Linked DNA regions of Homo sapiens. The protein of the gene in region 2 purifies or fractionates together with the protein of the main gene of each other region. This does not show direct contact. Each region holds a gene or a part of one and is shown on either strand. Other genes may lie near its edges.

Evidence for each region.
Region 1: the proteins of PHACTR4 (region 2) and FMNL2 purify together in Homo sapiens (affinity purification with western blotting, with the first as the bait; one study listed by BioGRID). This does not show direct contact.

The regions. Positions count from the first base shown.
Region 1 is NC_000002.12:152,625,094-152,628,905, reverse strand, and holds part of FMNL2 (formin-like protein 2), read right to left. Parts: intron 3,469-3,812; coding exon 3,344-3,468; intron 2,382-3,343; coding exon 2,179-2,381; intron 608-2,178; coding exon 373-607; intron 1-372. UniProt on the Homo sapiens protein: Plays a role in the regulation of cell morphology and cytoskeletal organization. Required in the cortical actin filament dynamics.
Region 2 is NC_000001.11:28,368,314-28,372,829, reverse strand, and holds the start of PHACTR4 (phosphatase and actin regulator 4), read right to left. Parts: upstream 3,091-4,516; 5' UTR 3,005-3,090; intron 1-3,004. UniProt on the Homo sapiens protein: Regulator of protein phosphatase 1 (PP1) required for neural tube and optic fissure closure, and enteric neural crest cell (ENCCs) migration during development.

The DNA.
Region 1 (3,812 bases), on a different chromosome or scaffold from region 2:
GAAATGAAAGTCTTATTTTCAGTCTTGCCAACACTGCCAGAAGACTAGTATCTTCAGAGAGGAACCAAGTTTGAGAAAAGAACCAAGTTTCTTTGTCCCCTGTCCTTTTGAAATCTAGAGAACATCTGTAGACACAAAAAATGGCATTCTTTCGGAAGAATGGCAATATGGAATATGAACATTCCCCATTTTTCAAATTTACTTTGCATACATAATGTGGAAAAGATGGTTGAAATAAAAATGCAATTTAGAAAGTTCTGGGAAGGAGTCTTTAGAACCCATCACACTGAGTACGATTCTGGGAGAGACTTTAAAAAATAACGATTCCACATTTCTTTGGACCCCCTCCCCTGCCAGAGTCAGTCCACTCACAGGAGTCAGCATCTGAATGCTTTCAGCAAAGTTCCCAATGAAGGCCATGATGGTCATCTTCTGCATGAGCCTCTCGATTTTACTAAACTGCATCATGAACCGATCTTCATCTGACAAGTTTTCCAGAGGCTTCCTTTCCCGCTCGTAGAGCCGAAGCACTTTCACTTCATTCTCAGTTGGTAGGAACCGCATCAAGCATTCCACAAAGTCCACAGGCAGTGTCTTCAAGTCAAATCTAAAGACAGATGTGGAGAGATTAGCATTAGAGAGAAAAACCTCCTACCCCCTTTTCAAGTTCATCCATCTTTTCAGGTTCATCCATCCATCATCCATCTGGTACAGCTCATCAAACACCAAATCAACGAGTCTAAGATTTCTCCAGCTGTCCTGTGAAGTCCCACCCTGGTGCTGGTTCTTGACTATGCCTCAGGTAACTTAACTGGTTCTTCCTGAAAACGTGGACCTTGTCACAACTGCCATCCTCAGTTTTTAGGGTACTGGCATAGCTCTAAGCCTCTGGAATCAGGAGTAAATGAAAATAGGAAGAGGTAGAACCAAGGCCAAAGCATCTGATGGTTTCATGGTTCAAGCACATAGTTGACAGGCATTGTGAAGTACAGCTAATTCAGGAGATTAACACTGTACACATTAGTACAGAATATCTGGTGAATTATGTAAAATATTTCAATTAAACCAATAGTCTGGTAGTATTTTTTCTTCTTTGGAAAAAAATGCATCCAAATGCCTGTATTATTGAATGTTTTAGGTTAAGTGCATACATTCCTTGAAGTTCTTTTTGGATATATGCTTAATTTGAACAAATGAAGTATTTGTTACAGTCTCTATTCTCTATTATTCTCTGGACAATCTTTGTTCAGCTAAATAATAGAATTACATTTAATCATCATGACAAACAAGATATATAAAGATTTAAAGCCAGGCTGCACTTCAGGATTCAATGACAGAAATCAGAACAGACTGTAGGAGGCACTGGACTACCAGATTATGACCCTGGTTGAGGACACAAAATTGGAACAAAGGATTTCTTAGGGTCATTTACACCTCGAAGCCTCTAACCAAAATGTATAAGATAATCAATTTATAAATAATTAGTTCCTAAAACATTTAATAATGTCTTCATCACATTTGAAAGTCACCATGGCCACAAGAAGAATAGAAGGATTCTTCTAATAGAGGAGTAAAACCAATGCCTTCTATGCAGTTCAAGAGTAAAAAATGAACTTTGTTTAAAATGTCCTGAAAGTACTGAAAGCAAAACAATTCACATTCCTGTTGTTACGAATTAAAATATGCATCTGTATCATATTTGCATCTGGCATTGAACTGTATCATTCCACAAATGCCATCAAATTTGTATTCAACAAATCTGGATAAAATCCAGATACTCCAGAGAAAACTGACATTTTCTACCTTTTCTTAACATCTGCCACGCTCAGCTCAACTTTCCTTTTATGTAAGCATTGCTGGAGGCCCGCATAAGAGAGTAGACCCAGATAATAAATGATGTCACAATCCAGATGTTATTCTTCTAAAACAATTAGTTACTGGTTCTAATACAACACTCCCCAGGGTGATTTCTGGTCTACCTCTTTCGTGTTGGCATCATATTCAACTTTGAAGTAGCACACACAGAGTTCAGATCTCTCAAGTGTGGATATCAAAAATTGCTCCAGCTTTTATCTTAGGTCTTGTCTCACTATTGAAATATTTGTCATCTACTAATTCATAACTTTCTCATTTTCATTTTATCATAAACTAACTAGAATATAATTTTCCTGAACTTACACATGAATAGCTTTACATATTTCATCAGCAGTCTTTCCAGCTTTCCTTAAAGTTATGGCAAGATTTTTGGCCCTGTTTGCTTCTAGTAATGTCACTTTGTTTGATCCCTTCTGTGGTATCTTCTGTTTGCTTGAAGAAAGATCAATGGCAGGTCCTTGGGCTTTTGTCTTGAATATTTCCTCAAATTCATCCACATTTAAATCCTAAGATAGAGAGGAATGACCATGGAAAATTGGATTATATTTAAAAATGAAGTCCGGAAGCCACCAGTTAGTTTCTTAAGCAAAAACGTCACTTTTTCTATTAAGTACTTGTCTTTGGCCATGGCTTCCTCTATTTTTCTTGTTTTTGTTATAGTACAACTTCTGGCACATACACAAAAGTGAACATAGGTCGGATGTGGTGGCTTATGCCTGTAATCCCAGCACTTTGGGAGGCCAAGGCGGGTGGATCACTTAAGGTCAGGAGTTTGAGACCAGCCTGGCCAACATGATGAAATGCGCTCTCTACTAAAAACACAAAGAATAGCCAGACATGGTAGTGTGTGCCTGTAATCTCAGCTACTTGGGAGGCTAAGCCAGAGAATTGCTTGAACCTAGGAGGAAGAGGTTGCAGTGAGCCGAGGTTGCGCCACTGCATTCCAGCCTGGGCGACAGAGTGAGACTCCGTCTCAAAAAATAATAATAATAATAATTTAAAAATAAAATAAAATAAAAAAATAAGTGAACATTAGACTACCGATTCTAACCCACTAATTCAATTACTTTTCAATAATTAGCTTGCACAGACAGCTGCCACAGATTAAAATTATCCATCAGATAAGGCAGTGAGTGTGATAATTGAGCTCACTTGCAGTCCAAAAGTTTTTATGTCTTTCTCTCAATTAAGGGAAGGAATTATTATGTCAGATCTATATTCTGTGGCATACACTAAAGATGCTCAAAAGCATTTATTCCAATTTAACATAACTCTTTGAACAGTTTTAGAGCCACCTTACAAAACAGTGTCAAATGTTATTCTCCAATATTACATACATGTTTCTTCTTTACATCAGGGGACTTAAAACACTAGTACTTTATCTCTGACACTTCCAGGTTAACAGAACACCCATGCCGGCTTTGCTGCACAGAGTGCACCTCTAGTTTCTAACCAATGAGAAAAATACCTCCAGAATTCGCTCATCATCAATTTCATTGAAGACTGTGCCATTGATCTGATTGGGCTTCAGAGCAACCCAGTTAAACACTGGCATTCTGAACTTCGTCTTGATTGGCTTCTTAATTTTCACAGCTAAAGACATCAAAGAGAATGGAATTAAGATCCCACCAAAAGCCTACGACCCTCAGGAACAATCAGACAACAGTCCTTGCAGATGACACTTTGACACTGGAGGAAGGTTGGCAAGAGGCGCGCAAGTAGGTTTTTAAAGCTGGAAAACAACACACATGGCCTTGGCCAGAGCCATTTGAGGTCATCATTTGGTTGACTAACACATCATTGTATTAAAAGACGTCTTAAGGGCCAAGGGTTGATTTTTTTTTTTCTTTTAACTCAGGCAACTAATTTGCTGCATTACAGTTACAATATTAGGACAATGGTTGGGACAAATAAAAAGTGTTGGAGAGCAAAGATTA
Region 2 (4,516 bases):
CCCAGGCTGGAGTGCAGTGGCGCAATCTCAGCTCGCTGTAACCTCCGCCTCCCAGGTTCAAGTGATTCTCCTGCCTCAGCCTCCCAAGTAGCTGGGATTACAGATGCCCACCACCACACCTGGCTAATTTTTATATTTTTAGTAGAGATGGGATTTTACCATGTTGGCCAGGCTGATCTCGAACACCTGACCTTAGGTGATCTGCCTGCCTCAGCCTCCCAAAGTGCTGGGATTACAGGTGTGAGCCACCGCGCCCAACCAGTTTATTATTAAAACTAGAGCAATTCTGTGGTTGCTTCTTCAAACTATAGCCAGGAAAACACAAAAGACCCTCACTCACTGCTGGATTAAAAATTGAAGAACTGCATTAAGGATCTACCATCCCTATACAGTATTACTAATACAATCTAGGATTCTCAAGAGTAAGTCACTTCCATTATGAGATATCAAACAAAGTAATACAGGGTGAAGGGCTTTATTTTGCCTACTCGGCTAGGGCAGGAATTAACCTATCTAACTTCAGTAACCTTCCCTGATTCATGTAAAGGGGTCCTCCTGGCTGTCCTCATCCCAGAGACTTGAAACACGAATTAACCTATTTTTCAAAAGGGTTATTTGCAATGACCTTCTTTAGAATTTTTTATTGGCCAGGCACGGTGGCTCACACCTGTAATCCCAGCACTTTGGGAGGCGGAGGCAGGTAAATTACTTTAGGTCAGGAGTTCCAGACCAGCCTGGCCAACACGGTGAAACACCATCTCTACTAAAAAAAAAAAAAAAATTAGCCGGGAGTGGTGGCACATGCCTGTAATTCCAGCTACTCGGGAGGCTGAGGCAGGAGAATCGCTTGAAACCAGGAGGAAGAGGTTGCAGTGAGCCAAGATCACGCCACTGCACAGCCTGAGCAACAGAGCAAGACTCTATCTCAAAAAACAAATACAGTATTCTTTATCTTAAGGTTTAATACCAGCACTTTGGGAGGGAGGATCACTTGAGCCCAGGAGTCCAAGACCAGCCTGGGCAACAGAGTGGGACCCCAATCAATACAAAAATTTTTTTAAAAATTTTTTTAATTAGCTGCGCTGGTGGCCTGTGTCTGTTGTCCCAGCTACTCTGGAGGCAGAGGCTTGAGCCCAGGAGGAGGTCCAGGCTGCAGTGAGCAGTGCTCAACTCACTGCACTCCAGCCTGGGAAACCCAGCGAGACCCTATTTCAAAAAATAAATACATAAAAATTGGCCAGGCACGGTGGCTCACGCTTGTAATCCCAGCACTTTGGGAGACCGAGGCGGGTGGATCACCTGAGGTTAGGAGTTCAAGGCCAGCCTGGCTAACATGGTGAAACCTTGTTTCTACCAAAAATACAAAAACTAGCTGGGCATGGTGGCACACACCTGTAATCCCAGCTACTCAGGAGGCTGAGGCAGGAGAATCGCTTCAACCTGGGAAGTGGAGGTTGCAGTGAGCCAAGATCGTGCCATTGCATTCCAGCCTGGGTAACAAAGTGAGATTGTCTCAAAATAAATAAATAAATATAAATAAATTAAATTAAATAGTCGGGCACAGTGGCTCATGCCTCTAGTCCCAGGCATCTGGGAGCCTCTGGTGGAAGGATGGCTTAAGCCAAGAAGTTCGAGGCTACAGTGAACTAGGAGCTCTCCACTGTACTCAAGCTTCAGCAACCAAGCTAGACTCTTGTCTCTTAAATGAAACAAACAAACAAATTTTACCTTAAGCTGATTCTAGCAATGCAGTCTTCCAACAGGAGGACATACACAGTTACCATTATCTAGCCAAATTTGATCGAATCCACAATCCACGCAGTTCCGCGGTTTCCGGTAAGAATCTACCACACCTCATCCCCTAAACTGGCTTCATTTCTAAACGGGCTTCATTCCTTTTTTTTTTAAGATGGGGTCTTGCTGTGTTGCCCAGGCTGGTCGCGAACTTCTGGCCTCAAGCGATTCTCCTGCCTCAGCCTCCAGAATAGTTGGCATTACAGGCGCGCGCCACCACGCCCGAAATTCATTTCTTTAATTTGGCGAAAAAGTAAGTGACTTCTAGAAGCCACTGGGTTTCTGGTTCCTCTATAAAGCAAATTCTTCCACTGAAGGACTTTTTCCTTCCACTGTTTGTTTTAAAAAGAACAAGAAAAGGAAGAGGTTGGAAGGAGCGAGGAGCTGAGTGTCCGAATGAAGCACTGGAGGGTTTTTTTTTTTTGCAAGCAATCAGTGATGCCCTGTAAGTCACTCTCCTCCGAGATTTGGGAGGTGCGTGAACTGCCATTCTACCATTCACCACTGGTTCTTTGGTCCACCGATCACAGATGTGAGCTGCACAGACATCGCAGCAAATTCGATGCCTTCCCGGTTTCCCGGAGCCGGGGTGTAGAGGGTGGGAGAGAGGGGTCGCTTCTTTTCCTTAATCTCATCTCTCCACCAAGAAAAACGTCGGGAGTTTCGTGCCCTGAAGCCGCCCAGGCTGATGTTTGAAAGTTAAATAATAACCTCCAGGTTTTTACAGAAACTCCGCCTGGCTCCGAAGCCCCCGTTCTGCCCAGCAGGGGTGCAGAGGTCTGAGGCAGGACGGTTTTGAAAAATGTACTTTGACCCGATCCGGTTACTGTAACCGGATCCCCAGGGAGCAGTCCCTGTTGGGGACCGGGGGAACAGGCTCCCCCGTGGCGGAGACTCCATGCACGGACACAAAGGGGGAGCAACGCAGCCCAGACAAAAGGGCCCAGCCAAGTCTCGGGGGGCGGAGAGGGCGAGCCTGCGCGGGCCCTGCCTCAGGCGGAGAAGCCCGGGTTGGACCGTTGTGGGAGGGCCGAGGAGGGAGGCGGCGGCCCCGCCCCGCCCTGGCCCGAAGCGACGGCGACCCGGGCCGTTACCTTCTGCCCGGACCGGGACCCTCTCGCAGAGCCAAGAAAGGGGCCGCAGCCTGAGAGGAGGCCGCAGCCTGATACTGAGCGCGTCCTGCTCACTTTCCCTTGCTCGCTGAACTTACCCAGATCTCCGCCGCCGCCTCCTCAGCCTCCACAGCAGCCTCTCCCGGAAATCCTACCTGGCCCGTTGGCCGCCAGGCAGCAGCCGGAGCCCTTGGCCCCCGGGGAGGGGGAAAAAGGGAGCCGGCTGGACAGTGTAGGGTAGGACGTGCCGCCGCGGAGGCTTACGGGACTTGTAGTCCCCAGCAGGGGCCGGTTGCCCGGCAAGCTGAACAAAATGGCGGGAAGCGTGCGTCCTTTCTCTCCGGGCGGTCGTCCTCCTTACGACCTCTCTGGGCATGCGCTGGCCGCTCTGCGCACCTTGTGTGTAAAAGAACTTGGGCACCTTTCCTGGTACTATGGGAGGCAAAGGTCTTTGGGCTTGGGAGGACAGGGTTCAATACTGGGCTCCAGGCAGTACCCAAAAAGGGAACTGATACAAGAGTGTTGTTTGAGAAAACTGTATCCCTGACTGGCCAAATTTCAATCATAACCTCCCCAAAGGAAAAACTATTTATTGAGGACCAATTTGAAGTGCAAAAAACGTACAAGCAAGTTATCTACCCTCAGTGTTGTGCGTAAGAAACCCAGGAATCATTCTGGACACTTCCCTCAAGCCATTAAGTCCAGTCATTCTACATCCCCAGTATTTTAATTCATTTCGATATCCTTCACTACTATCACCTAGTGAAAGCCACCATCACTTCTCTCCAAGTCTCAGTAGTTTCAGGCCCTAGGCTATCACCCTCCGAAAACCTTCCTTGCTGCTGCCAGAGGACCCTTCTAAATGCAAACCCATTGTATCACACAACCTAAATTAGACCTACATGTAAAACTTGAAGCTACGGCACATCTAGAGGACATTCCAGGAGAAAAATCGATGTGACTTTTCAAATACACTATCCATAAAATTAAAAAAATTGGCCAGGCGCGGTGGCGCATGCCTGTAATCCCAGCTACTCAGGAGGCTGAGGCAGGAGAATCGCTTGAACCCAGGAGGCGGAGGTTGCAGTGAGCCGAGATCTTGCCATTGCAGTCCAGCCTGGGCGACAGAGCAAGACTCCGTCGCAAAACAAACAAACAAACAAACAAACAAATTATCCGGGGCCTAGTGCCAAGCTCCTGTAGTCCCAGCTACGTGGGAGGCTGAGGTGAGATGATCACTTGAGCCTGGGGGGTCGAGATCGCACCAGTGCACTCCAGCCTGGGCAGCAGAGCAAGACCCTGTCTCAATAGAAAAAGAAAAAAGAAGAAAAAAAAATTGGCCGGGTGCAGTGGCTCACACCTCTCATCCCAGCACTTTGGGAGGCTAAGGCGGGAGGATCCCTTGAGCCCTGGAGTTTGAGACCAGCCTGCCAGCCTGGGCAACAGAGTGAGGCCCCATCTCTACAAAAACAATTTTAAAAATTAGCTGGGCATGATGGAACGTGCCTGTAGTCCCAGGTACTCAGGAGGCTGAAATAGGAGGATTATTTGAGCTGGGGAGGTCCAGGCTGCAATGAGCTGTGATGGTGTCGCTACACTCCAGCCTGGAC